Linked DNA regions of Homo sapiens: regions 1, 2, 3, 4, 5 and 7 are each linked to region 6. Evidence: fine-mapped expression QTL. A gene starts in region 6. Each other region holds a variant in brackets. All regions are shown on one strand. Distances are between the middles of the regions.

Region 1 (4,068 bases), 26 kb after region 6:
TTGAGATAGAATTTCGCTCTCGTTGCCCAGGCTGGAGTGCAGTGGCATGATCTCAGTTCACCAACCTCTGCCTCCCAGGTTCAAGCAATTCTCCTGCCTCAGCCTCCCAAATAGCTGGTACTACAGGCATGCACCACCACACCTGGCTAATTTTGTATTTTTAGTAGAGATGGGGTTTCTCCATGTTGGTCAGGCTGGTCTGGAACTCCCGACCTCATCTGATCCACCTGTCTTGGCCTCCCAAAGTGCTGGGATTACAGGCATGAGCCACCTCACCTGGCCAAAAATAACTTTTAAAAAATAAACCAGGTGTGCCAGGTGCAGTGGCTCATGTCTGTATTCCCAGCACTTTGGGAGGCTGAGGGGGGCAGATCACCTGAGGTCAGGAGTTCGAGACCAGCCTGGCCAGCATGGTGAAACGTCATCTCTACTAAAAATACAAAAATTAGCTGGGCATGGTGGCAGGCACCTGTAATCCCAGCTACTCAGGAGGCCGAGGCACAAGAATCACTTGAACCCGGGAGGCAGAGTTTGCAGTGAGCTGATATCAGGCCATTGCACTCCAGCCTAGACAACAAGAGTGAAACTCCATCTTGAAAAAAAAATTAACCAGATGTGGTGGCACATGCCTGTAGTCCCAGCTCCTCCAGAGGCTGAGGTGGGAGGATCACTTGAGCCCAGGAGATAGAGGCTGCAGTGAGCCATGATTGCCCCACTGTACTCCAGCCTGAGCAACAGAGTTAGACCTTATCTCTGAAATAAACAAAAACAAAAAAAAGGCCAGGCGCGGTGGCTCACACCTGTAATCCCAGCACTTTGAAAGGCTGAAGTGGGTGGATTACCTGAGGTCAGGAGTTCAAGACCAGCCTGGCCAACATGGTGAAACCCTGTCTCTACTAAAAAATACAAAAATTAGCCGGGCATGGTGGCAGGCACCTGTAATCCCAGCTACTCAGGAGGCTGAGGCACAAGAATTGCTTGAACCCGGGAGGCAGAGGTTGCAGTGAGCAGAGATCATGCCACTGCACTCCAGCCTGGGCAACAGAGCAAGACTCCATCTCAAAGAAAAAACAAAACAAAAACACTAAAAAGAACATTTCAGCTCTTGTCAAGAGACTGGACATGGAAGGGCAAGAGTTGGAGCAGGACATCTGGTGAGGAGCTGCCACATCAACATCTTTTGATCACCCCAGGCCACGTTTTGAGTGGGGCCTCTACTAGAATGTGGCCCAGCCTCAGATGCCTTAATTCTGACACTCAGTGCCGGTAGAGGCCCTGTGAGGTCACACTGTGGAGGCTTCTTGGGAAAGTGTTGGCTCTAAAATCAACATCTTGTTTCATTCCTTTGATGCTGGAGACAATGACCTCTGTCTCCTCATATGTCTGCTCAAGACTGTTACAAACAGGGTGGAGTGTCTCTTAGTCTAGGAGCTTGGGCTGCTCTGGAGTTTGCACAAACACAAATAATCATCACAGGCTCTCAGGCCATGTGTCTTGGTTATGACACAAAACAGCCCTTCAGCAGTGGACGTCTACATACTGGAAGTTCCCAAACACCTCTTTTTTT[A/T]AAAAAAAATATAGAGACAGGGTATCACTATGTTGCCCAGGCTGGTCTCGAATTCCTGGCCTCAAGAGATCCTCCTGCCTCAGCCTCCCAAAGTGCTGGGATTACAGGTGTGAGCCACTGAGTCTGGCCCTTTTTTGTTGTTGTTTTTAGACAGGGTCTTGCTCTGTCACGCAGGCTGGAGTGCAGTGGCATGATTACAGCTCACTGCAGCTTCAAATTCCTGGGCTAAAGTGATCCTCCTGCCTCACCCTCCTGAGAAGCTGGGACCACAGGCATACAGCCACACCCAGCTAAGTAAAAAAAAAAAAAAAAAAATTTCTGGAGACAAGGTCTCACTATATTGACCAGGCTGGTCTTGAACTCCTGATCTAAAGCCATCCTCCTGCCTCCGCCTCCCACCTTGAACCCCTCTTTTCCCCAGTTTGAAAATGAAATCCACACTTTGAGAAGGAGGAACAAATGGGGAAGACAGGAAGCCAAGAAGCCAACCAGGCTTGCCTGACTAAACACTAAATCCCTCACATTGGTTTTACTTCAATGATACAGCTAATTAAGGGTTGTTGATTTTTTTAAGTTCCTATTTGGCAAGTGAACAGTTTCTTCCTCAGTAAATTTGAACATCAAGTATCTGTTCTGTGATTGAATGAAGCAAATATTTTACACATGGGAAACAATTGTTAAATGATTGTATTATAGAAAGGGATGAACGGGACGGGGGCAATGCAGAGGCGGATGTCAGTGCCTGTGTCCCTGTGCTCCCCACCCACCTCCTCTGTCCCTGCTCCCCATGGTGTTTGTCAAGGGGCATAGTGCGCTGAAGGAGGGGTTACCAGGTGGAATATCCAGAAGACATCATTCTCGGCTACATGGAATCCACTTACTTTGATCTAATTTCTTTACTCATAGAATTCATTAAACATTCACATCAGCAGCTTCTGAATATCTAAGCCAATTGTTAAACATAGTGATGTTACTGGATTCTTAAAACAAGCTGGAGGCCGGCCGGGCACAGTGGCTCACACCTGCAATCCTAACACTTTGGGAGGCTGAGGGTGGATCATCTGAGGTCAGCAGTCAGAGACCAACCTGGCCAACATGGCGAAACCCCATCTTTACTAAAAAAAATACAAAAAAATTAGCCGGGCATGGTGGCAGGCCTGTAATCCCAGATACTCTGGAGGCTGAGGCAGGAAAATCGCCGGAACCCTGGGGTCAGAGGTTGCAGTTAGCCGAGATCGCACCACTGTACTCCAGCCTAGGTGATAGAGCGAGACTCCGTCTCAGAAAAAAGCAAAACAAGTTAGAGAAGGGTTTTTTTTTTAACTTCATTTTGAAATTGTGAAGACAGGCAGTGAGAGTGAGTGAGTTGTCCAAATTCAGGCCGCAAGCTGGAGAGCATGCGATTCCTGGCCTTTTGCAGCCAGAGTGTGTGGGCCAGCTGTGTGGTGGTGTGCACTCCCCTCTCCGTCTGGTATATGGCAGTATATATGGTATATACGGTATATGGCACTACCATATACCAGGTCTGGCCTTGTCACCTGGAGACCTGGGAGTCTTCTTTTGTTTTCCCTGACTTTTGTCACCAGATCTGCTTACTTACAAGTCCCGTTGGTTGTGCCCCTCCCAGCCTTTCCCGTCTTCCTCCTTTTTATCTTGGTCATTATTTCAACCCAGCTAGAATCATATCTGGCCCAGATTACTGCATTAGTTCCTAGTTGGAGTCCTTTAAACTCTCTTTTTTAAAAAAAGATGGCTGAACATGTGGTTCCTGCCTGTAATCCAAGCACTTTGGGAAGCTGAGGCAGGAGGATCACTTGAGGCCAAGAGTTCAAGACAACCCTGGGCATCAGAGTGAGACCCCCATCTCTACAAAAAAAATTTAAAGTTATCTGGGTAAAGGAAATAATGTATACAGTGGTCCATTTCCAAGACAAAGTGCCTTAAATCAGATTAGGTCAGCAAACTACAGAAGAAACAGGGTATACACGGCTCGGCATGGTGACTCACACCTGCAATCCCAGCACTATGGGGGGCCGAGGTGGGTGGATCATGAGGTCAGGAGATCAAGACCATCCTGGCTAACACGGTGAAACCCCGTATCTACTAAAAACACACACAAAAAAATAGCTGGGCGTGGTGGCGGACACATGTAATACAAGCTACTCAGGAGGCTGAGGCAGGAGAATGGCATAAACCTGGGAGGCGGAGGTTGCAGTGAGCCGAGATTGCGCCACTGCACTCCCACCTGTATGACAGAGCAAGACTCCATCTTAAAAAAACAAACAAAAAAAACCACCTAAAGCTCCTACCCAACAACCAATAGGTGACATCCAGGAAGATTGTGACCCCATAGTACTCAGCCTATGTATAAGGAAATGGGAGGGACCTGCACACAAGAGGATAAATTGCTTGTTGAAACTGTTCTGAGTGTGCCTGCCTATCAGACACCCGATCCTGCAAGACCATCGTTAAAAGTCTTACTTTCGCTCTTCTCTGGGTAT
Region 2 (4,068 bases), 130 kb before region 6:
CCCAGAAGTTTAGACGGTGCCTCAAAAATAAAAATTTTAAATTAAGTTCTTAATCAAATGGAAGATTTAAGCTGAGATCATTTTTATTGATTCAGAACAGTGCTGGCTGGGTGCAGTGGGTCATGCCTATAATCCCAGCACTTTGGGAGGCCGAGGTGGGTGGATCACCTGAGGTAAGGAGTTCCAGACCAGCCTGACCAACATAGAGAAATCCCATCTCTACTAAAAATACAAAATTAGCAGGGCGTGGTGGCGCATGCCTGTAATCTCAGCTACTCGGGAGGCAGAGGCAGGAGAATCGCTTGAACTTGGGAGGCAGGGGTTGTGGTGAGCTGAGATCACATCATTGCTCTCCAGCCTGGGCAACAAGAGCGAAACTCTGTCTCAAAAAAAAAGAAGAGGAAGAAGAAACAAAAGAAATGTGCTAATGGAGAAGCATGGTGATCAAAGCCAAAAACTTGAATTTAGATCAGTAATTTTGCCATTGTCTTACTGATACAGAAAAACAGTATTCTGGCCATATGTAGGTATTAGTCTCTACAGTTAAGTACATTTACTTCAGATATTTGTAAAAATATAAAATCGATTTTTTAGTATTAAAAATTAAGGTATACTGGCCAGGCGTGCTGGCTCTGCCTGTAATCCCAGCACTTTGCGAGGCGAGGCGGGAGGATCATGAGGTCAGGAGATCAAGACCATCCTGGCTAACATGGTGAAACCCCATCTCTACTAAAAAAAAAAAAAAAAAAAAATTAGCCGGGTGTGGTGGCGGGCGCCTGTAGTCCCAGCTACTTGGGAAACTGAGGCAGGAGAATGGCGTGAACCCGGGAGCCAGAGCTTGCAGTGAGCCGAGATCGCTCCACTGCACTCCAGCCTGGGTGACAGAGTGAGACTCCATCTCAAAAAAAAAAAAATTTTTTTTGGTATATTGAGGAAAGAATATGTTCTAACTGATGTAACTTGAGATTTCTCATAAGATGTTATTGTCTGCCACACAAGAAAATTGTAAAATATTTTCCTCAGGTATATGCTGTTGATATTTGTGCATTTTGGAAAGATATTATATATTTGGAAATCTTTAAATATAAAAATAATTTACATGCTAAAATTCTGAGAAAGTTACAAGAACCTTTAAAATCCTGAGTAGAATATAAAGAAACATATGAGAACTTTCCAGGTACAAAAGAAAGCCAAAGGAAGAATCCAGAATGTAATTAAACTAAGAAGCAATTGTTCTTCTTAGATATGGGTGAACACACAAATAAAAAATTTCTGTGGGTTGTCCAACTTGCCATTAGACAAATGAAAAAATAACAACATAAGGGAGGAGGGATAGCATTAGGAGAAATACCTAATGTAAATGACGAGTTAATGGGTGCAGCACGCCAACATGGCACATGTATACATATGTAACAAATCGGCACATTGTGCACATGTACCCTAGAACTTTTAAAAATCACCCTAAAAAAAAATAAAAATCCTTTTCTACAAAAATAAAAATAAAAGTAACAACATAAACTAACTGCAGACATTGCAAACGTAATATCTTTCACAAGCGAGAAACAAATTACAACTTATATTACCCACAGTTACAGGACTTAGGTTTAAAATGTTTAATCCAACACAATGGGGAAAACAGAAAATATACCAATAATGTGAAAAGTACAAGAAGCTACAAGGGTGACAAGTCATATTTGTTTGTTTTTTGTGCATGTGGGGGTTTTTTTGTTTTGTTTTGTTTTTTTGTTTTTTGAGACAGAGTTTCACTCTTGTCGCCCAGGCTGGAGTGCAATGGCATGACCTTGGCTCACCACAACCTCTGCCTCCTGGGTTCAAGTGATTCTCCTGACTCAGCCTCCCAAGTAGCTGGGAATACAGGCACCCACCACCATGCCCAGCTAATTTTGTATTTTTAGTAGAGACGGGGTTTCTCCATGTTGGTCAGGCTGGTCTCCAACTCCCGACCTCGGGTGATCCACCCGCCTCGGCCTCCCAAAGTGCTAGGATTACAGGTGTGAGCCACCACACCCAGCAACAAGCCATATTTGAAAAACAGCCAGCCTTTCCTCAGGCGTCCCGCATCTGCTGATTCCTCCTTCCTGGTCACTGCGTCCTTGGCTGGCATCAGAAAAGTGGCTACAAACTTCCTAGTACATGAGAAGATCTGGTTCAACAAGTTAAAATGTGACAATGCAGAAAGGAGATTCTTCAAGCAGATGAACAAGGCTGTGGCCAGCACCTCCCGCCAGGAGAACGGCGCCAGCATGATCCTCCATGACATTGCGAGAGCCAGAGAGCATTTCCAGAAATCCCTGGCCAGAAGCTCAGGCCCCGGGGCCTCCAGCAGCCCCAGCGGAGACAAGGCTGAGCTCATCTTTCAGATCACCAGTCTGGAAGTGGAGAACCAGAGCCTGCGCAGGGTTGTGCAGGAGCTGCAGCAGGCCATCTCCAAGCTGGAGGCCCCACTGAAC[G/A]TGCTGGAGAAGAGCTTGCCTGGCCACCACAGCCCTGCAGACCCAGCACGAGTCTCCTATGTGCCAAGTGGAGCCCCTGGCCAAGAAGCCAGCCAAACCAGCAGAGGATGACAAGGACGATGACATTGACCTACAGGGGATAGGCCCCCAAATCTGGCCATAAATTGGCCCCAAAACTGGCCATAAACAAAATCTCTGCACTACTGTGACATGTTAGTGATGGGCATGACAGCCATGCTGACAGTTGTGGGTTTACCGGAATGAGGACAAGAAACACCTGGCCCACCCAGGGTGGGAAATCCACTTAAAGGTGTTCCTGAACTACAAACAATAACATGAGCGACCTGTGCCTTAAGGACATGTTCCTGCTGCAGATAACTAGCCAGAGCCCATCCCTTTGTTTCAGCCCATCGCTTTGTTTCCTGTTTTAGTTAATCTATGATCTATAGAAACAATGCTTATCACTGGCTTGCTGTCAATAAATATGTGGGCAAAACTCTGTTTGAGGTTCACAGCTCTGAAGGCTGTGAGTCCCCTGATTTCCCACTCCACACACTATATTTCTGTGTGTGTGTCTTTAATTCCTCTAGCGCCACTGGGTTAGGGTCTCCCCAACCAAGCTGGTCTTGGCATTGACCTGTTTGGCAGTGACAATGAGGAGGAGGACAGGAGGCAGTACTGCTGCGGGAGGAGCGGCTGCGGCAGTACACAGAGAAAAAGGCCAAGAAGCCCATGCTGGTGGCCGAGTCGTCCATCCTGCTGGACATTAAGCCTTGGGATGATGAGACTAACATGGCCCAGCTGGAGGCCTGTATGTGCTCCATCCAGCTGGACAGGCTGGTCTGGGGGGGCCTCTAAGCTGGTGCCCGTGGGCTATAGTATCCAGAAGCTGCTGGTTCAGTGTGTAGTGGAGGATGACAAGGTGGGGACAGACTTGCTGGAGGAGGAGATCATCAAGTTTGAAGAACACGTGCAGAATGTTGACATTGCAGCTTTCAACAAGATCTGAAGACTGAGTGTGAGTGTGTGTGTGTGTGTGCACGCGTGCATGTGCTTGAGGCCCCGCCATGATTAAAAACTGAGACCGGCAAAAAAAAAAAAAAAAAGAAAAGAAAAGAAAAAACAGCCAAATGTGAAGTAAACAATTGAAAATATAATCAGTCTACTTAATATACAACATATGTGTGAAACATTAAATTAGTCTGAAATGATGAGAAGATTAGTGAACTAGAACACTAAGCAGTAATTAATTACTGTAAAGACAAAAGGAGAAAAGTTATATTAACAAAATCTAAAATATACATGTATGACAGGGAGCATGAGATGGAGTAAAACAAGTCTGATTATTTTTATAGAATATATTTTCAAAATCAAAGTCAGTATTCAGAGTTGGTGACTCATAAGTTTCTAAAATTGAAAAGCAGACATAATTACTTCTCAGCCTTTTGGCTAAAATCAAGTGAAAACCAGATATAAGTGCTTGAATTCAAATGTGCAGTGTTCCAAAAAGAGAAAAATAACAAAATTAATTCCTTAAAATAAAAAAATAAATTACTTAAAACGGGCTGCATAACACCAAGGAGAAGAAAAACACTAC
Region 3 (4,068 bases), 27 kb before region 6:
TTTTTTAAAAAATTACATAAGTATTTCAATAGATGGAGAAAAGCATTTGACAAAATCCAGCATCACTTTATGATTTAAACCATCAGCAAAACTGGCCTACCAAGGACATACCTTAATATAATAAAAGGCATCTATGACAAACCTACTGCCAACATAATACTAAATGGGGAAAAGTTGAAAGCATTTCCTCTGAGAACTGGAACAAGACAAAAATGCTTACTCTCACCACTTCTATTCAACATAGTACTGGACATCCTAGCCAGAATGATCAGACAAGAGAAAGAAATAAAGGGCATCCAAATCACTAAAGAGGAGCTGAAACTAATTGTTTCCTTATGATATAATTGTATACCCAGAAAACACTAAAGCCTCCTTCAAAAAGCTCCTAGAACCAATAAATAAATTAAGCAAAGTTTCAGAATACAAAATCCATGTGCACATATTAGTAGCTTTGCTATATACCAAAAGCGACCACGCTGAGAATCAAATTAAGAACTCAACCCCTTCTACAATAGCTGCACAAAAAATAAAATACTTAGGAATATACCTAACCAAGGAAGTGAAAGACCTCTACAAGAAAAACTACAAAATGCTGCTGAAAGCAATAGATGACACAAATAAAAACACATCCCATGCTCATAGATGGGTAGAATCAATACTCTAAAAATGACCATACTGCCAAAAGCAATCTACAAATTCAATACAATTCCCATCAGAGTACTGACATTATTCTTCAAATAACTATGAAAAAACAATCCTAAAATTCATATGGAACCAAAAAAAAAGCTTGCATAGCCAAAGCAAGACTAAGCAAAAGAAACAAATCAAAAGGCTTCGTATTACCCAACTTCAAACAACACAATAAGGCCACACTCACCAAAACAGCATGGTACCGGTATAAAAATAGGGACATAGACAAACAGAACAGAATGGAGAACCCAGAAATAAACACAAATAGTTACACCCAACTGATCTTTGACAAAGCAAACCAAAACATAAAGTGGGTAAAGGACACCCTATTCAACAAATGGTGCTGGGATACTTGGCAAGCCACATGTAGAAGAATGAAACTTGATCTCATCTCTCACCTTATACAAAAATCAACTCAAGATGGATCAAGGACTTAAATCTAAGACCTGAAACTATAAAAATTCTAGAAGATAACATCAGAAGAACCCTTCTAAACATTGGCTTAGTCAAGGATTTCATGACCGAGAACCCCAAAGCAAATGCAATGAAGACACAGATAAATAGCTGGGACTTAATTAAACTAAAGAGCTTTTGCATGGCCAAAGGAAGTGAGCAAAGTAAACAACAACCCACAGAGCGGGAGAAAATCTTCACAATTTATATATCTGACACAGGACTAATGTCCAGAATCTGCAACAAACTGAAACAAATTAGCCAGAAAAAAAAAATCTCGTCAAAAAGTGGGCTAAGGACATAAATAGACAATTCTCAAAAGAAGATATAAAAATGGCCAGGAAACACATGAAAAAATGCTCAACATCACTAATGATCAGGGAAATGCAAATCAAAACCATAACGTGATACCACCTTGCTCCTGTAAGAATGGCCATAATAAAAAAATAAAAAAATAATAAATGTTGGTGTGGATGGAGTGAAAAGGAAACACTTCTACACTGCTAGTGGGAATGTAAACTAGTACAACCACTATGGAAAACAGTGTGGAGATTCCTTAAAGAACTAAAGGGAGAACTACCATTTGATCCAGCAGTCCTACTATTGGGTATCTACCCAGAGGAAAAGAAGTTATTATTTAAAAAAAAAAAAAAAAACTTGCACACGCATGTTTATAGCAGCATAATTTGGAATTGCAAAAATGTGGAAACAACTCAAATGCCCATCAATCAACAAGTGGATAAAGAAACTGTGGATATATATACATATATATATATATATATGTATGTGTATATATATATATATGTATGTATATATATAATTGAATACTACTCAGAAATGGAAAATCAAACATTGTATGTTCTCACTCATAATTGGGAGCTAAACTATAAGGATGTAAAGGCATCAGGTAAAAGACTACAAATTGGGTTCAGTGTATACTACTCAGGTGATGGGTGCACCAAAATCTCAGAAATCACCACTAAAGAATTTACTCATGTAACCAAATACCACCTGTTAAACAAAATTTATGGAAATAAAAAACT[TA/T]AAAAAAAAAAAAAGACTGAAAGCGAACTCAGTTCATCCAGCCTTGTTTTCTCATTTTGCAGGAGAAAGGTTGGAGACAGTGCCAACTTCACATAGCCTTTAAGAGATCAACTCCAGACCTCAAATCACACCCTCTGACCCCAAGCCAATGGTCCTTTTTTGCCTCCCAGTATTACTCTGTCTCTTCAAACAAGAAGAAAGAGCCAAGTTGAGAAGGAGAGTGGTCACACCCACACCTAGATTCTATTCTCCTGGGCACTGCCTTCCCTGTGGGACCTACCTATTTAATTCCAGTGCTCATGTTATGCCCAAACCCTGGAAGAATGTGACCTTTAAATCTCTGTGCACCCCAGGAACTAGCAGACATTAAAAGTAATAATAATGGGCTGGGCACACAGGCTTGTGCTTGTGGTCTCAGCTATTCGGGAGGCTGAGGAGGGAGAATATGTTAAGCCCAGAAGTTCAAGGCTGCAATGAGCAATGTTTGCGCCATTGCACTCCAGCCTGAGTGCAGAAAAAGTAATAATGACAAAATAAAAAGAGAAATTTACCAATTACTAAGGAAGTCTAGAAAGGCTAGGTGTACCCCCTCTAAATCTAAAATAACAGTTTAAAAATAAAAATATTTTATTGGTAAAAATAAATAAGATAAAAACCACTTTCTTTTTACCCTGAGATAGTATGTAGAACTTGATTTTTGGTTGAAAGCACTTATTACTAAGCCTAACACAAATAATTTGGCAAATGGGTTCTAACAATAATATGTCTCTCATGACTTAAAAAAGCCACTAATTTTACTTTTGAAATATATTTAATTTTTATATTAAAGCTAAGATGAACCTATTATTACATAGAAAATTTGTGGTCTGCATATGCCTCCCCATCCACTGAGTGGTCTACAGTTTCTGAAAGTTTCAGAAACACTAATATAAGAATACTTTTTCTGATTGAATAATTTAAGGATATTGTTTTCTCAGTGACTAAAATGAAATAGATTGGAATTACAAATCAGTCACTTACAATGTAATTTTAAATGTTATTTAATGAACACGTGAAGTTTTTTAAAACTCATCTGAATAACTTATTTCGATTGACTTTTTTCTATTAGAAAATATATTAAAATTTCTGTTACTACAAGCCTATGAATTTTATTCAAATCTAAATATAGTGCTAATCTTAAAAGATCTCTTTGTTTAGGATTATGAAAGCCTATTCTCTACATACACTCAGAAGATAAATAACCGCTTTCCAGTAAACTCAATGGGGCAACTGTGACTCACAATCATAACCTATTAAAATATTAATACTATTATCTAGGTAAAACTTTTAGGTATCTGCATGTTCAGGTTGTTTAACTTATATAATTCAGAAACTATAAATTTTTATAATCTATAAAAACATTTAAAAAGATAAAGTATCAATTTCTTTTTGTCAGTTTTGAAATACTGACATTATTTCTAGTTGACATAACACTAGAATTCAGATGCTGTGGCTGTAGAAAATAGAAATGTCATGGTTTACTTGGTTTTACTTCCTACCTTCCTATTTCACACAAACAAAGCAGCACAAGGGAAGCCAGAAATGCTACACCTTGATTGCAAAAAAACCAGAACCCTTCTAGAGACAATATATGTGTCAGCATAATAACTTGAAATTCATGGCATCTTTTGTTGAAGTAGAGGCTCCAACAAGAGGCTGAATTAATCAACAAAAGGCTGAATTAATTTGCATTCTCACAAAGACTGTGTAAACATTCCCTATTCTCCACAACATGCTATTTTTTTTTTTACTTTTTAATAACAGCCATTTTAACTGGTGTGAGATGGTATCACATTGTCATTTTGATTTAATCTCTTTAATGGCTTGAGATGTTGGGCAACT
Region 4 (4,068 bases), 250 kb before region 6:
TCGGTTGAACCCAGGAGGTAGAGGTTGCAGTGAGCCAAGATAGCACCACTGCACTCCAGCCTGAGTGACAGAGAAAGACTCAGTCTCAAAAAATAAATAAATAAATAAAATGAAAATAAAAAATAACTGCAGTAAAACACATCTCTGAACATTATTTTCTTTTCCACAACTGTTTCTTTACATGTAGGATTCCTCTGCCAAAATTTTTTCATTCTTTTCTTAGCCATTCTCAGTCAGGATTATTTTTCTGACTGTACAGAGAGACTGTAACTGAGCAGGTGCAATTTCAGCAAAGTCTTGAAGAAGATAGGCCTCGGCTGACCAGGTAAACTCTAAGCAATTGTAAATAACTATCTTTTAAAGGTGTATAATTTTTATTTTATATTGATTTACCAGGACAATCACCATTACAAAAAAATCAATTTAATTACGCCAGGCATGGTGGCTCACACCTATAATCCCAGCACTTTGGAAGGCCAAGGTGGGTGGATCACCTGAGGTCAGGAGTTTGAGAACAGGCTGGCCAACATGGCAAAACCCCATCTCTACTAAAAATACACACACACACACACACACCTGGGTGTGGTGGCAGGTGCCTGTAATCGCAGCTACTTGAGAGGCTGAGGCAGGAGAATCATTTGAACTTTGGAGGTGGAGGTTGCAGTGAGCCAAGATCACCCCATTGCACACCAGCCTGGGCAATGGAGGGAGACTCTGTCTCAAAAAAAAAAAATCAATCTAATTACAATATATCTAGAGATTTAACCCACATCTAAATGTTAAATTGACACTACAATATAATATTTAAATCTGCAAAAAGACATTAGAACATGTGGTCAATAATACCATGAGCTGCCACAAGCTTTTAGCAGATAATACAAATGACAATCACCTCTTTATGCCCATACAGGAGAAAAACATACTTGTGCATCTCATATATATCAGAAAAGAGAAAAATGCAGAATTCAATTTGCGGAAAAAGGTTGTTTATACCAGATATATACATTTTACTGATGGTTGTCCAGTATAATTTTTAAGTTTTCTGTATTACATTTTACCAAATATATATAATCCTGTTGCTCACAAGAGAGGAGCAAAAGCTAAACTATTCAAATGGTCATAAGAATTTTTGGAAAATAATATATCGTTAAAAAGAAGTTGAAAGTGTAATAGTTGACCCCTTAGGAATCTTAAATATTCCATTTAATTGCACTTAGATGGCAAGAGCTGGAGTTTTGATTAAGTTGGCCAATTCAAAATCCTCCAGAGAGAAGTTATCAGGTATCAACATTTAAGGCAGATTTTATTCATTTAAAGCATCTTAAGAAGTAACGGAAACTGCAGAAATTAAAGAATTCAGGGCCGGGTGTGGTGGCTCATGCCTGTAATCCTAGCACTTTGGGAGGCCAAGGTGGGTGGATCACCATAGGTCAGGAGTTCAAGACTAGCCTGACCAATATGGTGAAACCCTGTCTCTACTGAAAATACAAAAATTAGCTGGGCGTGGTGGTGTGCGCCTGTAGTCCCAGCTCCTCAGGAGGCTGAGAGAGGAGAATTGCTTAAACCCGGGAAGCGGAGGTTGCAGAGAGCCGAGATCATGCCACTGAACTCCAGCCTGGGTGACAGAGCGAGACTCTATCTCAAAAATAATAATAAATTAATTCAGGATTTCCACTAGTAATAAATTATATTGAAAATGTTGTTAGATTGTGTTGGCCATTTGACAGCTGCTATTTATAACTGTTTCATAAGCCTGCTGAGTCACAGGGGCAGATAAGCAATCACTGTTGTTTACATGTTCCTTTTCAGGCAGCTTTTATTAGCATGCAAATATTATCATCTTCCCAACCACAGACCCCAACATGCAAGATTTTACTTTGTGTCCAAAGGGACAGCCTTGCTTGGTTGCTTACAATCATCATGGTCATAAAGACAAAGTCCCAGTTCCCTGATACCTCTGCTTTCCAATCTGTGCATGAGACAGCCTTTGTGAGGCCCAGCATGGCCAGCTGTGCCTCTCCTTTCTGGTGGAATGTATTAAACACCTTTTAATTGCATTCACCTCCTTTTAATGTGTTAACATCCAGGCGAAATTCATGAGGCCTGCTTTAGAAAAATCATGTTGCAGGCCAGCTGCGGTGGATCACGCCTGTAATTCCAGCACTTTGGGAGGCTAAGGTGGGTGGATCACAAGGTCAGGAGTTCAAGACCAGCCTGGCCAACATGATGAAACCCTGTCTCTATCAAAATATAAAAAATTAGCCAGG[C/T]GTGGTGGCAGACACCTGTAGTCCCAGCTACTTGGGAGGCTGAGGCAAGAGAATTGTTTGAACCTGGGAGGCAGAGGTTGCAGTGAGCTGAGATTGCACCACTGCACTCCAGTCTGGGCGACAGGGTGAGACTCCATCTCAGAAAAAAAAGAAAAATCATGTTGCTGTGCTTTGTTATCAAAAATAATATGGAGGTGGAAGCGCAAAGCAAAAGTAACCAAAACATGGATAGTACTAATTTGTATTTGAAAGTGTATTTGTGAAATATACTTTTACAGAAATATCTTTGCTAGGATGTCAAGGAAGAGGTCACAAAACATCAACTCCAAAATATTCACATAAATTTAACAATTTAGAGATGGTTGTTACTTTTTGTTCTAGATTATTTCTACTTTCAGTAAAGCAAGTATTTATTGTAATACAGAAGCATTGGAAAATTAACACTAATATAACTAATGTCTGAGTCCTGAAGACTTTCCTCTGGAACCTCAGTAAATTTACTTAATCTAAATGGGTCCAGGTGCTGAGGTGATTACCCTTATCTTGTCTCCTGCTGAATCACGGAGGTTAGGGTAGTTCCTTCAGACCCCCAGTAAACTTGTTTGTGGAGGCCTGGGGGTTTCTTCAGACCCACAAAAAAGCTCATTTAATTCTACATAGGTCCTGTTAAGAATTCCTTCATTATTTTGTCATGCTGTAAGGCCCAGGAAAGGCCTAGGGAAAACTCTTCGTGGGCTTTTGTTACATTCCAGCCTTTGTATAAGGGCACTGGTTTTTTTTTGTGGGGGGGGGGGTGTGGGGGTGCTGAGGTTCACTCTTGTTGCCCAGGCTGGAGTGCAATGGTATGATCTCTGCTCACTGCAACCTCTGCCTCCCAGGATCAAGCGATTCTCCTGCCTCAGCCTCCCGAGTAGCTGGGACTACAGGCATGCACCACCACGCCTGGCTAATTTTGTATTTTTAGTAGAGATGGGGTTTCTGCATGATGGTGAGGCTGGTCTCGAACTCCCAACCTCAGGTGATCCACCTGCCTCAGTCTCCCGAAGTGCTGGGATTACAGGTGTGAGCCACCATGCCCAGCCAGGGCACTATTTTTTAATATTTAACTGAACCACTCAGTCAGTACTGAAACAGTTGTTTTGGAGGCCTCTATTAGTAAGAGCTGGACTGCCACAATCCCTACTGTCAATTCATGCATGATTTCTGTCTTGCTTGTGTATTTATTTATCACAAGAATTGGAGGGAGATGAGGGGGTCATAATCCTTCTGGATACTTCCTGCAGAGAGGGGGTCATTGTTATGGGGCACTGAATGCAGCGCTGGAGTGGAAGAGGTCAATTTGTTTCCTATAGCACTCTCTGTTTTGGGGGCTTAGAGGCAGCACCTTCTGAAACATAATAGTATGCAACAGAAGCACGCATAAATAGGTTGCTGCTCTTCTGAAGTTTAAGTCATCTAGTCTTTAGTTCACAGGGCTTTAAGAAAGCACAGCTTGGGTTTTAGTGATTTCTTATTAGGAAAAATGGGGAAACAGAACAATATAAAGCAAAAAGTTAAAAACATTATTTTGGAGACTTGTAGCCAGAAAAATTAGAATTTAATCCAAACTGTAGAAAACAATAAAATTTGAAAAACATCAGGTAAGACTAGAATTTAATCACAGGTGTACTATTGTTTTTGAAACATAACTTCTTTCTCTCCAGTTTCTCAGTTTTACTAAAAGATAAATTGTGGTAGGACTGGTTTGCTTTATTATACTTGGCCTAATTATTGGTATACAGTGCAGCAAGAATAATTATTT
Region 5 (4,068 bases), 32 kb after region 6:
GTGATGAGTAAAACTCTGTCTCGAAAAAAATTAAAATAAAAATAAGTCAGTAAAATAAATAAATAAAAATACAAAAATTAGCTGGGCGTGGTGGTGGACACCTGTAATCCCAGCTACTTGGAAGGCTGAGGCAGGAGAATCACTTGAACCCGGGAAATGGGAGGTTGCAGTGAGCCAAGATAGCTCCATTGCACTCCAGCCTGGGCAACAAGAGTGAAACTCCATCTCAAAAAAAAAAATTTTTTTAAATATATATATAGTGAGAGAGAGACAGAGAAAGTTTACCTCTACTTGATGAGCCAAGTCTCTTCAGTGTGTGAAAAATAAATGCTTTTTTTTTTCAGGCACCCCAGACTTCTGGGAAAGGACCTTGGAGCTGTGCCCAAGCATCCCAGCCTTTGCCCTCAATTGCAAACAGAGTGGAGTGTCTCTTAGCTAAGAAGTTTGTGCTGCTCAAGGGTTTGCACAAATACAAAGTTGAGAAATACTCCTTGCTGAAAGGGGTGTAAAAGGCAAAGGACAAACCGGTTGTCCTCTGAAGTGGAGACATTTCTATTCTATGTTGGGCTATGATCTTGGAGAATGCAGGCAAGGAACGAGTTTCGCTGGTTTTTCAGTGAGAGACCCCTTGTAGTAAGAGAGGCTCTTCTCTCTCTACCTGGTGAGTTATTTTCATCTCTTTGGTACCCATTTCCTCATGTTTAAACTTAGGAGTGAAACCACACGTCCCCTAAGATCCTTTTCTCTTAGCTGTTCTGTGAGTTAATTAATGAGATTTGTTTTCCCATTAGCATATATCCAAAAAGGTAATCAGGATAGGTTTTCCATGTTTCCTGGAATCTTGTAATTGCCCCAAATGAAGTGGGAGTATTTGGAGGAGAATCCCTTCCTTGCTTCCTTTATTTCATTTTTAGAGACAAAATCTCTCTGTCACCCAGGCTGGAGAGCAGTGGTGCAATCCTGGCTCACTGCAACCTCCAATTCTTGGCCTCAAGTGATGCTCCCATCCCAGCCTCTGGAGTAGCTGGGACAACAGGCTCACACCACCATGCCGAGCTATTTTTTTTTTTTTTTGAGACCGAGTCTCGCTCTGTCGACCAGGCTGGAGTGCAGTGGCGTGATCTCGGCTCACTGCCTCACTGCAAGCTCCGCCTCCCAGGTTCACGCCATTTTCCTGTCTCAGCCTCCTGAGTAGCTGGGACTACAGGCACCCGCCACCATGCCCAGCTAATTTTTTGTATTTTTAGTAGAGACAGGGTTTCACCATGTTAGCCAGGATGGTCTCGATCTGCTGACCTTGTGATCCGCCCGCCTCGGCCTCCCAAAGTGCTGGGATTACAGGCGTGAGCCACCACACCCGGCCAACCAGCTAATTTTTAAAATTATTTTGTTGAGACAGGGTCTCACTATGTTGCCCAGGCTGGTCTCAAACTCCTGGCCTCAAGTGATCCTTCTGCTGCAGCCTCCCAAAGTGCTGGGATTACAGGCATGAGACATTGTGCCTGGCCCTTCATTGCTTTTTAATAACCTTAATTCTTTTGAATATCTTTAGAACTACAGTGGTTTTGTCTTTTGAGGCTAGAGTTGATTTCCATAAATAGTCATTTTGAGCCAGGTCTTTTGAATAAAGTGAGTGGCCAGAGAAGATGCCACAACTTTGGCGAAAAGAGTTTCCCAAGGATTACACCATGAACTCTAAAATGCTGTGTGCCGGTCACTGGGCCACAGTTCACTCTTCTTGCCAAATTCAGAATTGCAGATGAGAACTTTATTTTATTTTATTTTATTTATTTATTTAATTTTTTAGACAGAGTCTTGCTCTGTCACACAGGCTGGAGTGCAGTGGTGTGATCTCAGCTCACTGCAACCTCCGCCTCCCGGGTTCAAGAGATTCTCCTGCTTCAGCCTCCCATGTAACTGGGATTACAGGCATGTGCCACCATGCCCAGCTAATTTTTGTAGTTTATTTATTTATTTATTTATTTATTTTTTGAGATGGAGTCTTGCCCTGTCACCCCAGCTGGAGTGCAATGGTGCGATCTCAGCTCACTGCAACCTCTACCTCCTGGGTTCAAGTGATTCTCCCTGCCTCTGACTCCTGAGTAGCTGGGATTACAAGTGCCCACCACCACACCCGGCTAATTTTTGTATTTTTATTAAAGACAAGGTTTCACCATGTTGGCCAGGCTGGTCTCAAACTCCTGATCTCAAGTGATCCGCCCGCCTTGGCCTCCCAAAGTGCTAGGATTACAGGCATGAGCCACGGCACCTGGCCTAATTTTTGGACTTTTAGTAGATAC[A/G]GAGTTTCACCATGTTGGTCAGGCTGGTCTCCAACTCCTGACCTCAAATGATCTGCCCACCTTGGTCTCCCAAAGTGCTGGGATTACAGGCATGAGCCACTGTGCCCGGCCGATTTTTTCTGATATCAAAGGAATCACCAAGGTCTTCCCTTTCTTTTGATTCATTTATTTTCTTGGTTCTGAAATATTTTTTAAAATATGGAATGCTTCATGAATTTGTTTGTCATCCTTTCACAGGGACTATGCTTATCTTCTCCATGTCATGCCAATTTTTGTATATGTGCTGCCGAAGTGAGCACTGGTTCTGGATTGATTGATTGATTTGTTTGTTTATCTGTTTTTGAGACAGGGTTTCACTGTGTCTTCCAGGCTGGAATACTGTGGTATTATCGTGGCTCACTGCAACCTCTGCCCCCCAGGGCTCAAGCAGTCCTCCTGCATGGGCCTCCCAAAGTGTTGAGATTACAGGCATGAGCCACTGTGCCCAGCCTGGAATGTTTAACTGCTGACTTTGATGCCTGGTTTTGGTTGTACTAGACATTCCCACTACTTTTTTCTTTAAAAAGTACTGGTTTCTTTAGCTCCTTAAAAAGATCTTTGGTGTTTTATATATCAAAATATGTGAGGCCAGGTGTGGTGGCTCATGCCTGTAATCCCAGCATTTGAGGAAGCCAAGGTGGGAGGATCTCTTGAGCCCAAGAGTTCAAAACCAGTCTGGGCAACATAGTGAGACCCCTGTCTGTATAAGAACTAAAAAATTAGCTGGGCACGATGGTGCATGCATGTAGTCCCAGCTCTTGGAAGGCTGAGGCAGGAAGATCGCGTAAGCCCAAGAGGGTGAGGCTATAGTGAGCCATGATCATGACACTGCAGTCCAGCTTGGGTGACAGAGTGAGACCCTGTCTCAAAAAAAAAAAAAAGATTAATAATTGCAGAAACATTTTCTATGCTCCAGATTACTTTAAAAATTGGACCTAATCTTGGCCAGGCATGGTGGCTTACACCTGTAATCAGCACTTTAGGAGACCAAGGCAGGTGGATCACTTGAGGTCAGAAGTTGGAGACCAGTCTGGCCAACATGATGAAAGCCTGTGGGTGAAAGTAAAGTTGGGTGCAGTGGCTCTCCCTGGATTCCTTGATGCTTTTAATACCCTGAGTCCTCTACCCCACTCTGAGCCACACTGACACTTGTGCACCAAGGTGCGTGGTGTGGCCCCAGTGCCCACAGGATCGCTTGTAAGAACTGCTCCTTCAGCCCCCACCTGTGGCCTTTCCTCCAGGGTGAAGTCTGGTTCCTGATGTTCACACCATGCTCCTTCTCACCAGGGTGCACGGGCATCACTGCCTACAAAACATTTGATTGAAACCTGTTCCTTGGGGGGCCACCTTACCTGTCCAGGATGGCTTTCTCTGAAGCCAGTTCTCCCACCACAGTGGGAAGTAAAGAAAATTATGAAAATTGGCCAGGCATGGTGGCTCATGCCTGTAATCCCAGCACTTTGGGAGGCCAAGTGGGACAGATCACTCAAGGTCAGGAGTTCGAGACCAGCCTGGCCAACATGGCAAAACCTGGTCTCTAATAAAAATACAAAAAATTAGTCAGGCATAGTGGTGTGCACCTGCAATCCCAGCTTCTCAGGAGGCTGAGTCAGGAGAATTGCTTGAGCCTGGGAGGTAGAGGTTGCAGTGAGCTGAGATCATGTCACTGCACTCCAGCCTGTGCGACAGAGCAAGAGACTCTGTCTCAAAAAAAAAAAAAAAAAAAAAG
Region 6 (4,068 bases):
AATTCCTATCAAACTACCAAAAACATTCTTAACAGAACTAAAAACAACTATTTTAAAATTCATATAGAACTAACAAAGAGCCCGAATACCCAAGGCAATGTATACACACACACACACACATATATACACATATACACACACACACACATATATATAAACGACTCATAGAACAAGAAACAGAATAGATAGCCAATAAATAATGCCACAATGCCACACACCTGCAACCATCTGATCTTCAACAAAGCTTACAAGAGCAATGCAGGAAGAATTCCCTATTTAATAAATGAGGTTGGAATAACTAGCTAGCACTATGCAGAAGATTGAAACTGGATGCCTTTCTTACATGATATATAAAAATCAATTCAAGATGAATTAAAGACTTAAATGTAGAACTTAAAATTATATATATATATATATATATATATATATATATATATATATATATATATATATATAAAACCTGAAAATAATCTAGAAAATAACCTAGAAAATTCTAAGACATAAAAACTGGCAAAGATTTTATGATGAAGATACCAAAAGCAATTGCAACAGAAGCAAAAATTGACAAATGGGACCTAATTAAACTAAAGAGCTATTTTGCAGCAATGGAAACAATCAACTGAATAAACAGACAACCTACAGACTAGAAGAAAATATTTGCAAACTATGCTTCTGACAAAGGTCTAAAATCTAGCATCCATAAGAAACTTAAACAAATTTATTTTAAAAAAAAAGAAGAAGAAGAATAAGCCAGGATCTGTGGCTCATGCTTGTAATCCCAGCACTTTGGGAAGCTGAGGCAGATGGATCATGAGGTCAAGAGATCCAGACCATCCTGGCCAACATGGTGAAACCCCATCTCTAATAAAAATACAAAAATTAGCTGGGTTTTGTGTCACGCACCTGTGATCCCAGCTACTCAGGAGACTGAAGCAGAAGAATCATCTGAACCTGGGAGGTGGAGGTTGCAGTGAGTCGAGATCATGCCACTGCACTCCATCCTGGTGACACAGCAAGACTCCATCTCAGAAAACAACAACAACAACAAAAAGAAAACCAAAAACCTAATTAAAAAGTAAGCAAAAACATGAACAGATACTTTTCAAAAGAAGACATACATGTGGCTGACAAGCATATGAAAACAAAATTCACGTTGTTAATTATTAGAAAAATGCAGAGAAAAACCACAGTGAGATACCATCTCATCCAGTCAGAATGCCTATTGTTAAAAAGTCAATGACAGATGCGGGCTAGGTTGCAGAGAAAAAGGAATGCTTATATGTTGTGGGAATCAGGAGGCCGGAGAGATCACTGGGTGCAACAGGAAGGTTTTATTTAGGTGGCCACTGGCCCAGCGGATTAACATCCAAAGGCTGAGCCCTGAACAAAGACAGGGCTTGACTTTTATACATGCATCAGGCAGGGGCAAGTCGGGTTTTTGGCGCAAAACCTGCGAGGTGAGAAAGCAGTCTTACAGAAGCAGAACAAAGGCAGTTAATCATACCGTGACAGGTTTTACAACAGGATTTGCAACATGAGCCTACCTTACTTAAACATGTCTTGTGACCTTGCCATGCTACAGAAAGAAAAACAAGAACTTACAAAATCTTTACAGACTTGCAGAAATAGTTACAAAAATAGTTGTGAGAGCAGAACAAAGAATAATGTTATGGGGAGAGAATTTCAAACAGGGAAACTGATAAGGAGAACTTGTTTTTCTCATCCCTGCTCCTGGAGCCCACTCCTTCGGAGCCCCTGCCTGGCCTTGCAGATAATTATCATAGCTCCAGCAGGACTTTGGAGTGAGTCAGACTGGTCAGGAAAGGACTTGTTTTCCCTTTACTTGTTTTTCCTTTTATATTTCCTGCTTCATTCCCCCCTTTGATGCTTTTTATAAGTAAAGTTTAAGAGAAAGCATCACTATCTTCATTTACTTCAAGAGGAAGTAGCTCTTTTCTTGGCAGGGGTTAATACTTAGTTAGGGCCATTAGTCGTGTGGTAGTCCGTCTGTCCACAAGAGCCTCTATGGCTGTTTGGATATTTTTGACAATGAGGGGTAAGAGACAAGGGAGTATAAGGCAAACTCCCAATATGGCTAGGACTATTTGTACTAAGGTTTTAAATCCTCCAAGGGATGAGAACCAACCTCTGAAAAGGGAATCTGGAGACTATCCTTTCCAAGTCTGAACTGGGATGTGAGCTAACTTTTGGATTTTAGCAGTTATTTCTTTGATGACCTTTCCTTCGTCATCAAGTTCCAGGCAGCAGTTAGTAAGGTTGAACTTTCCGCATACTCCCTCTTCCTGGGCTAGGAGGTAGTCTAAGGCCAGTCTATTTTGATAAATGACATTTCTCATTTTTGTGGCTTGCTGGGCAAGCAGATTCAAGGCCCCTGCAGTTTCATTGGTAATGATTTCTAGTACTGCCTGCAATCTTATAATGCGGTTAAGCATGTAAACTGGGGTGCGGTATCCCCACATTCCATCTTCTGCCCAGGTGGCTGGGCCATAATATTGAATTATTCTTTCAGGAGGCCATTCATTGTCCTTCCAATCTCCTATAGTTATGCCTCTTTTGCTTTTCCTTTTAGTTTCATCATAGATGGGGTATCCTAAGGCTTCTCCCTGTTTTAGGGGCATTAGGAAGAAGGACGGCCTAATTGTCCCCAGTACACAGGCCCCTGACCATTTAGCTGGCAGTTGTCGATATGCTTGTGGCCCACAGATCCAGTAGAGGCCAGAGGGTGCCTGCCAGGTATTTGGAGCTTCAAGTTGGTACCAAGAATGGTTTAAAGATGGGAAACGAGAGAATGGGCTTGGGTGTGGTGATTCAGAATTATTGCTTTTGCCCCTCCATAAAGTCTTTCCTAGTGTCTCGTTGTAATATTGTTGTCCTAGGCAAGTTAACTCTCCTACTGGGTCTGTAAAGGCCTTTCCCCAGCGAGCAATACAGAATTTTCCAATAATGGAGGTTTTTAAGAACCAGATGCTCTGACTTGATGGTGCAGGTTCGAGGGAAGAGGCGGTTAGTGTGAAATTATCTTGGGGCATTAGTTCCCTTGCTTCCCATGGCCATTGGTCTCCCATGTTCATTCCCCCACAGACATAACATGAAGCAACGTGCAGGCTGCTGGCTATGTTTTCAGCCAGTTGGGCGAATAAATTACTGGCCAAGGGAGGGGGCTCAGGCAATTTCTGGTTAACATGCTCATAGAATGACTCAAAAACTCGGAACTGTTGGGTTGAGCGGGTCCGAGTTTTCTTTATGATATATAGATAGACATAGGCTCCTGGGCCAATTTCTTCACCGCTGACTCGTGCCCCTAGCGGTGCTTTTAAACCTGTTGTCCATATGGGCTGATCTGGCTCTAAGATGGTAAGATTTACAGAATTGCAAGTGCTTGTTTTACAATCTGGTTCTAATGGTATTTTGGTAAGCATAATTGGCCCTAGTGATTGTTGGTTAGTGGACCACGTTGTGCAGTCCCAGCAAGTTGTTACTGGGGAATCGGTGGAACAAGCAGGGTGTGCATACCTATTTTTATGGCAGCTACTATAGTACTCCATGGAACTGAAGATTACGGGAAAGAGTGAGCCCATGGATACTATCTGGCAAACATCAAAGTATAAGGATACGACATCCTTGCCAGAGGGAAATACCTTGGTTTGGTTTAGAAGATCCCCTTCCTTTGACCCGACATGAATTTCAAACCAGGTCCCAGGTGAAGACTTAGGGTCATAACACACATAAGGCTGGCCCCTTCCTGGGTCACAGACTGAGTAGGTTGTCTGGTTGTGAGTACAAGTTCCTAGGCAGGTCCCAGCACACTCATAATAAGTGTGATACAACAGGGTTTTAGTCATGATGTTCCCCGACCACGTAGTGTGGGTGCAGTGGAGGCATCCCTCCCAGGGTTCTCCTTTTAACATGGATAAGGGGAGTAGCAAGAACAAAGTGATGAGTAGCATGTTCATACCCAGCATGGACAGAAAAGGCTTTTTCCTGGGGGGAGAAGGCTAAGCAAAGTGACAGCTTAATAGCAAAGTAATTAATATGACAAGGAAAATT
Region 7 (4,068 bases), 260 kb after region 6:
TATCTGGGATTACAGGTGTTTGCCACCACGCCTGGTGAATTTTTGTATTTTTAGTAGAGACAGGGTTTCTCCATGTTGGCCACACTGGTCTTGAGCTCCTGACCTCAAGTGATTTGCCCGCCTCAGCCTCCCAAAGTGCTGGGATTACAGGTATGAGCCACTGTGCCCAGCCCCTCTTCATCTACTTCTAACAATCCCTGTCTTCCTTTGGCTCAGGTAAGGCTAATTCTACTCACTGTGCCCCAGAAGGCACATGACTAAAGGATGATTTTATCCTCCTGGCCACAGAGACAGGTTTAGAGACAGGCCTATGACCCAAATCAAGCCAACAAGACTGGTTCTAGGAAAGGCACTCTGCCTTTGTGGGAGTTGCTAAGCTGGTTGACTGTAAGCCAGGAAACTTCTGGGGCCTCTACAGGAAGACAGGCTGCAAAGAATGAAGTCAACCTAGAGAAAAGCAGAGACAAGAAATGGCAGATGTATGAAAAGATGGAAATGGGGAAGAGAAGGATCCTGGATCCAGCCATGCCTGATCCAGTTTTACTCCTGGACTTTAAAATCCCTTCTTGCTCAAGCAAGTATGATTTTAGCTTCTTTTACTTGCAACCAAAAGTCTGGTCAAATACTGGTCAGGCCTCCTAGAGAAAATTGCACTGGAGCTGGCCAGGCAAACAGCTCCACATGGAAAAGGGCTTTCCTACTATAAGAGGCCAGGGAGCTGAGAGGGGGCAGGTGTTGATGAAGGGATTCTTGTGAGTAAGGGGTGAAGGAACAAGTGGTCGAATTCCATGGCCAAACATGCCTCCCTTCCCATCTCTGCAGTCCCAGGACTTGATACAACCCCAGAGGTGGGAGGGACTGAGTTGGGGCACTGTATTTAAGCTGGAGAGTCACATGAAGTGAATGCAGAAGTCAGAAAGCCTGAGGCACTGGGTGGATTGGATCCTGACTAGAGCCAGCCAAGATTTTAGGCAGGGAGCCAATGCCATGAAAGCCCACTCTTGGGACTATGTGTAGGTCAAAGAGAGGTGAGAGGTACCTGGAAAAAGGGCAACTGGTCAGACAGCTATTACAACAGGCCAGGGATGAGGCAACAGGACCAGAACTACAGGAGGGAAGGGAATGGATGGGAAAAAATCGTCAAGAATTTTGGCTCTGAAATCAGGGTAATCTGGATTCCAGCCCCATTGACTAGCTAGGCCATCCTGGACACACGACTCACAGCCAGAAACTCAATTTTCCCCATTTGTAAAACCGGCACAAGACCTACCAGGGTTGCTGTGAGCATTAGAAATAATGGACATCAATGGCTCATGGCAGGTCCAGGGCAGTGGCTAGTCCAGCTGGGACTCTTGTCTTCCTGCCCACAGTGAACCCTGCAGTTTAGTTGAGGTTAAGAAGTGCTGACTAGGCTGCTTGGAGCCAGGCCTCATTGGCCAGAGGTGAGTCAGATAAGTGTCCCTGATTTCCAAGAGCTCATACTCTGATGGAGGAGACAGGAAGAAAAATGGAGAATCTAAACTCGTGGAAATAGCTGGGAAAGAGGATGCAATTGAGGAGAAAGGGTAGGCAGGGCACTGGGGCTAAGACTGTGACCGGCAGAACCAAGGGCAGCAGGCAAAGCGCTTCGAGACTCTGCCTTCCCCCAACCAGATCCGAGGTCTCATCCCTCATAGAAGCGGCTCTCCCCATCCATGTTCAGGCTCTTGCTGCAGCACCCGAAGCGGAGCTCACAGAATACAGAGGCTGCTATGCCTATGGAAGGGTGGCAGCAGGAAACAGAAGCTCTCTGCAACCTGATGCCAGCAAGAAAGGAACAGAAGGAGGGGCAGCGGGAGCCAAGAAACAGCCCAGGACCCAAAACCAGGCCAGCCCTGGACGCAGAATAGGCTCCAGCTGGGACATGGAACAACTGCACCTGTCAAGGAGTGAACCCTCCATCACCAGAGACGGTGAGGCTCTTCCCTCCGGATCCTGGGCTGAGTTCCACCTTTTAACTTTAGTCCTCTCCTCTAAACCCGACAGAAGCACCTTGCTCAAAACTCAAACCTGGCAGCAAGGCCCCTCTCCAACCTAGCTCCAAGCTGGCTTTCGAATCTTCTCCTCCTCCTGCCCTACGCTTTCTCCTTTCCCGGCCTTTGCTCATACCATTCCTTCCACCCACACACCTTCGCCCAATCATTTCCTCCATTTCCCAATCGCTAGGCCCAGTTCCGCCTCCCGGAAGCCTTTCCTCCTTCTGAGACGCTGGGGCCTGGTGAGTTACCTGACTGTTGGGCACCTTTCTGTTAAGATTCTTGTTTTTGTTTTTTGTG[T/G]TTTTTTTTGAGAAGGAGTCTCGCTCTGTCGCACAGGCTGGAGTGCAATGGCGTGATCTCGGCTCACTGCAACCTCTGCCTCCCGGGTTCAAGCGATTCTCCTGCCTCAGCCTACCGAGTAGCTGAGATTACAGGCGCCCGCTACCACTCCCAGCTAATTTTTGTATTTTTAGTAGAGACGGGGTTTCACCATGTTGGCCAGGCTGCTCTCGAACTCCTGACCTCGTGATCTGCCCGCCTCGGCCTCCCAAAGTGCTGGGATTACAGGCGTGAGCCACTGCACCCGGCCTATCTTAGCATTCTTTATATCCGCCCCAGGTACCCGCACATGCCCTGCACACAGCTAACATCGGGGCAATGTTGTGCTCCTCTGTTGCCTTTGCCTGTTCTGTTCCCCCCGCACCTTTTTTTTTTTTTTTAATTTATTTGGTTCCAATCGCCCTCCAATGCCAGCTCTCCATGAAGTCCTGACTCCCTCCTGCACCGCACCTCCCTTGCTGCCTTAAGTCCCGCTGTCCCTGTCACCCGTGTTCCCGTGGCTCTGGGCCCCTGCCACGCCAGGCGTGCTCTTCTGTTTCTGGCTGTCCCACCGGCGATGCTGCGCTTCCACACCACCCGGCGCACAGGCGTTGGTAGATGTGGAAGGTACCAAGAGCGGCAGGAGGAAGGGGCGCGCGGACACCCAGCCCCTTCCCGCGCACCCAGAGCAGGAAGAGCAGCGCGCACCCGGTCAGCGACGCGGCGGGCTCCACTGTGGCGCGCGCACTCCGAGCACGGAGGGCTGCAGGCTCACGCCACCTGGCTCCGCGCCCATCCCAATCCGCACCCGCCGCCCAGGAACCGGGGCTCACCCTCCGCCTGACAATTGTCTCGGGGTGCCGAGGGTCCGTGGCCCGTTGCCCGGGAGGTGACCACTGAGGAGTCGCGCTGGGGATCGGACCAGGAACTCACTGCTTTCATTGGCTGCGGAGGTCAGACCGTCCCACCCTCTTCTCCCCGCCGCCGCGGCAAGGCCAGGGCGAAAGGGACAAGTGCGCTGCTGGGGTCCTCTGCGCTGTGCGGGTCCGGGACTCAGGGTTCCCGGCTGCTATCAAGGCTGCGTAGCTTCCCCCTCCCCTCCTCCTTAGGTGGCAACTTGTGGACACACCCATTAAGCGGTCAGGCGTCAGGTTTCCTCCCGAGAGGTGGGAGGCGCCCTGGCCTTGATTCATCGTGAAGCTAGGCAGGAGATTTCCCAGCCACGGAGGGTGGAAAGCTTGCCTTGACCTCAGCAGGTCATGTCACTCCGTGTGCACAAGGCCTCGAGAGGCACTTTTTAAAAATTTTTTGAGGCGGTTTTCTTTTTTGTCTTTGTCTTTTCTTTTTTTTCTGAGACAGAGACAGAGTCTCGCTCTGTCGCCCAGTCTGGAGTGCAGAGGTGCTTTTCAAAAATTTATTTGAGCTGCGCGGCAGTCCTGGGCGGTAGGTAGTGGTGAATCTCATGTATTCCCGTTGCAATGCCCTACTCCCAAATAAACATCTTTTCTTTGAGAGAGCCTTTCTCTGTTTGTTGTTTAGGTTGAGAGTTTAAAAACAGATAATAAAGCCGGGCGCGGTGGCTCACGCCTGTAATCCCAGCACTTTGGGAGGCGGGCGGATCACTTGAGGTCAGGAGTTCGAGACCAGCCTGGGCAACATGGCGAAAACCTGTCTGTACTAAAAATACAAAAATTAGCTGGGCGTGGTGGCAGGCGCCTGTAAACCCAGCTACTCA

What was found. PIP is the estimated chance that this variant, and not a neighbour inherited with it, causes the effect.
Region 1: its variant is fine-mapped to the expression of ZNF117 in whole blood (TOPMed, PIP above 0.99).
Region 2: its variant is fine-mapped to the expression of ZNF117 in tibial nerve (GTEx, PIP above 0.99). The same link has a PIP of 0.9 or more in prefrontal cortex and thyroid.
Region 3: its variant is fine-mapped to the expression of ZNF117 in whole blood (INTERVAL, PIP above 0.99).
Region 4: its variant is fine-mapped to the expression of ZNF117 in whole blood (INTERVAL, PIP above 0.99).
Region 5: its variant is fine-mapped to the expression of ZNF117 in whole blood (TOPMed, PIP above 0.99). The same link has a PIP of 0.9 or more in blood mononuclear cells and lymphoblastoid cells.
Region 7: its variant is fine-mapped to the expression of ZNF117 in whole blood (TOPMed, PIP above 0.99).

What each region holds. Positions count from the first base shown.
Region 1 is chr7:65,014,835-65,018,902 of GRCh38, forward strand. The region is part of intron 3 of LOC105375330 (a long non-coding RNA gene); the gene reads right to left. Among named protein-coding and RNA genes, the nearest start is that of ERV3-1-ZNF117, 10 kb to the left of the region's middle. The variant A/T (reference allele first, on the strand shown) is at 1,568.
Region 2 is chr7:64,860,891-64,864,958 of GRCh38, forward strand. It overlaps the pseudogene EEF1DP4. Among named protein-coding and RNA genes, the nearest start is that of ZNF273, 40 kb to the right of the region's middle. The variant G/A (reference allele first, on the strand shown) is at 2,472.
Region 3 is chr7:64,961,978-64,966,045 of GRCh38, forward strand. No RefSeq gene overlaps it. Among named protein-coding and RNA genes, the nearest start is that of ZNF117, 27 kb to the right of the region's middle. The variant TA/T (reference allele first, on the strand shown) is at 2,187.
Region 4 is chr7:64,743,137-64,747,204 of GRCh38, forward strand. No RefSeq gene overlaps it. Among named protein-coding and RNA genes, the nearest start is that of ZNF138, 49 kb to the right of the region's middle. The variant C/T (reference allele first, on the strand shown) is at 2,268.
Region 5 is chr7:65,020,712-65,024,779 of GRCh38, forward strand. All of the region lies in intron 3 of LOC105375330 (a long non-coding RNA gene), which reads right to left. It also overlaps the pseudogene RNU6-1229P. Among named protein-coding and RNA genes, the nearest start is that of ERV3-1-ZNF117, 16 kb to the left of the region's middle. The variant A/G (reference allele first, on the strand shown) is at 2,301.
Region 6 is chr7:64,989,044-64,993,111 of GRCh38, forward strand. It overlaps ZNF117 (zinc finger protein 117), which reads right to left and starts at 1,993. Exons shown (of 4, transcript NM_015852.5): 1 at 904-1,993. The region is part of intron 1 of ERV3-1-ZNF117 (ERV3-1-ZNF117 readthrough); the gene reads right to left. ERV3-1 (endogenous retrovirus group 3 member 1, envelope) reads right to left here. Exons shown (of 2, transcript NM_001007253.4): 2 at 1,313-4,068. The coding sequence starts at 3,983. The coding sequence ends at 2,169.
Region 7 is chr7:65,249,037-65,253,104 of GRCh38, forward strand. LOC124901661 (a long non-coding RNA gene) reads right to left here and starts at 3,380. Exons shown (of 2, transcript XR_007060366.1): 1 at 3,267-3,380. RefSeq lists an enhancer at 1,225-1,818. The variant T/G (reference allele first, on the strand shown) is at 2,316.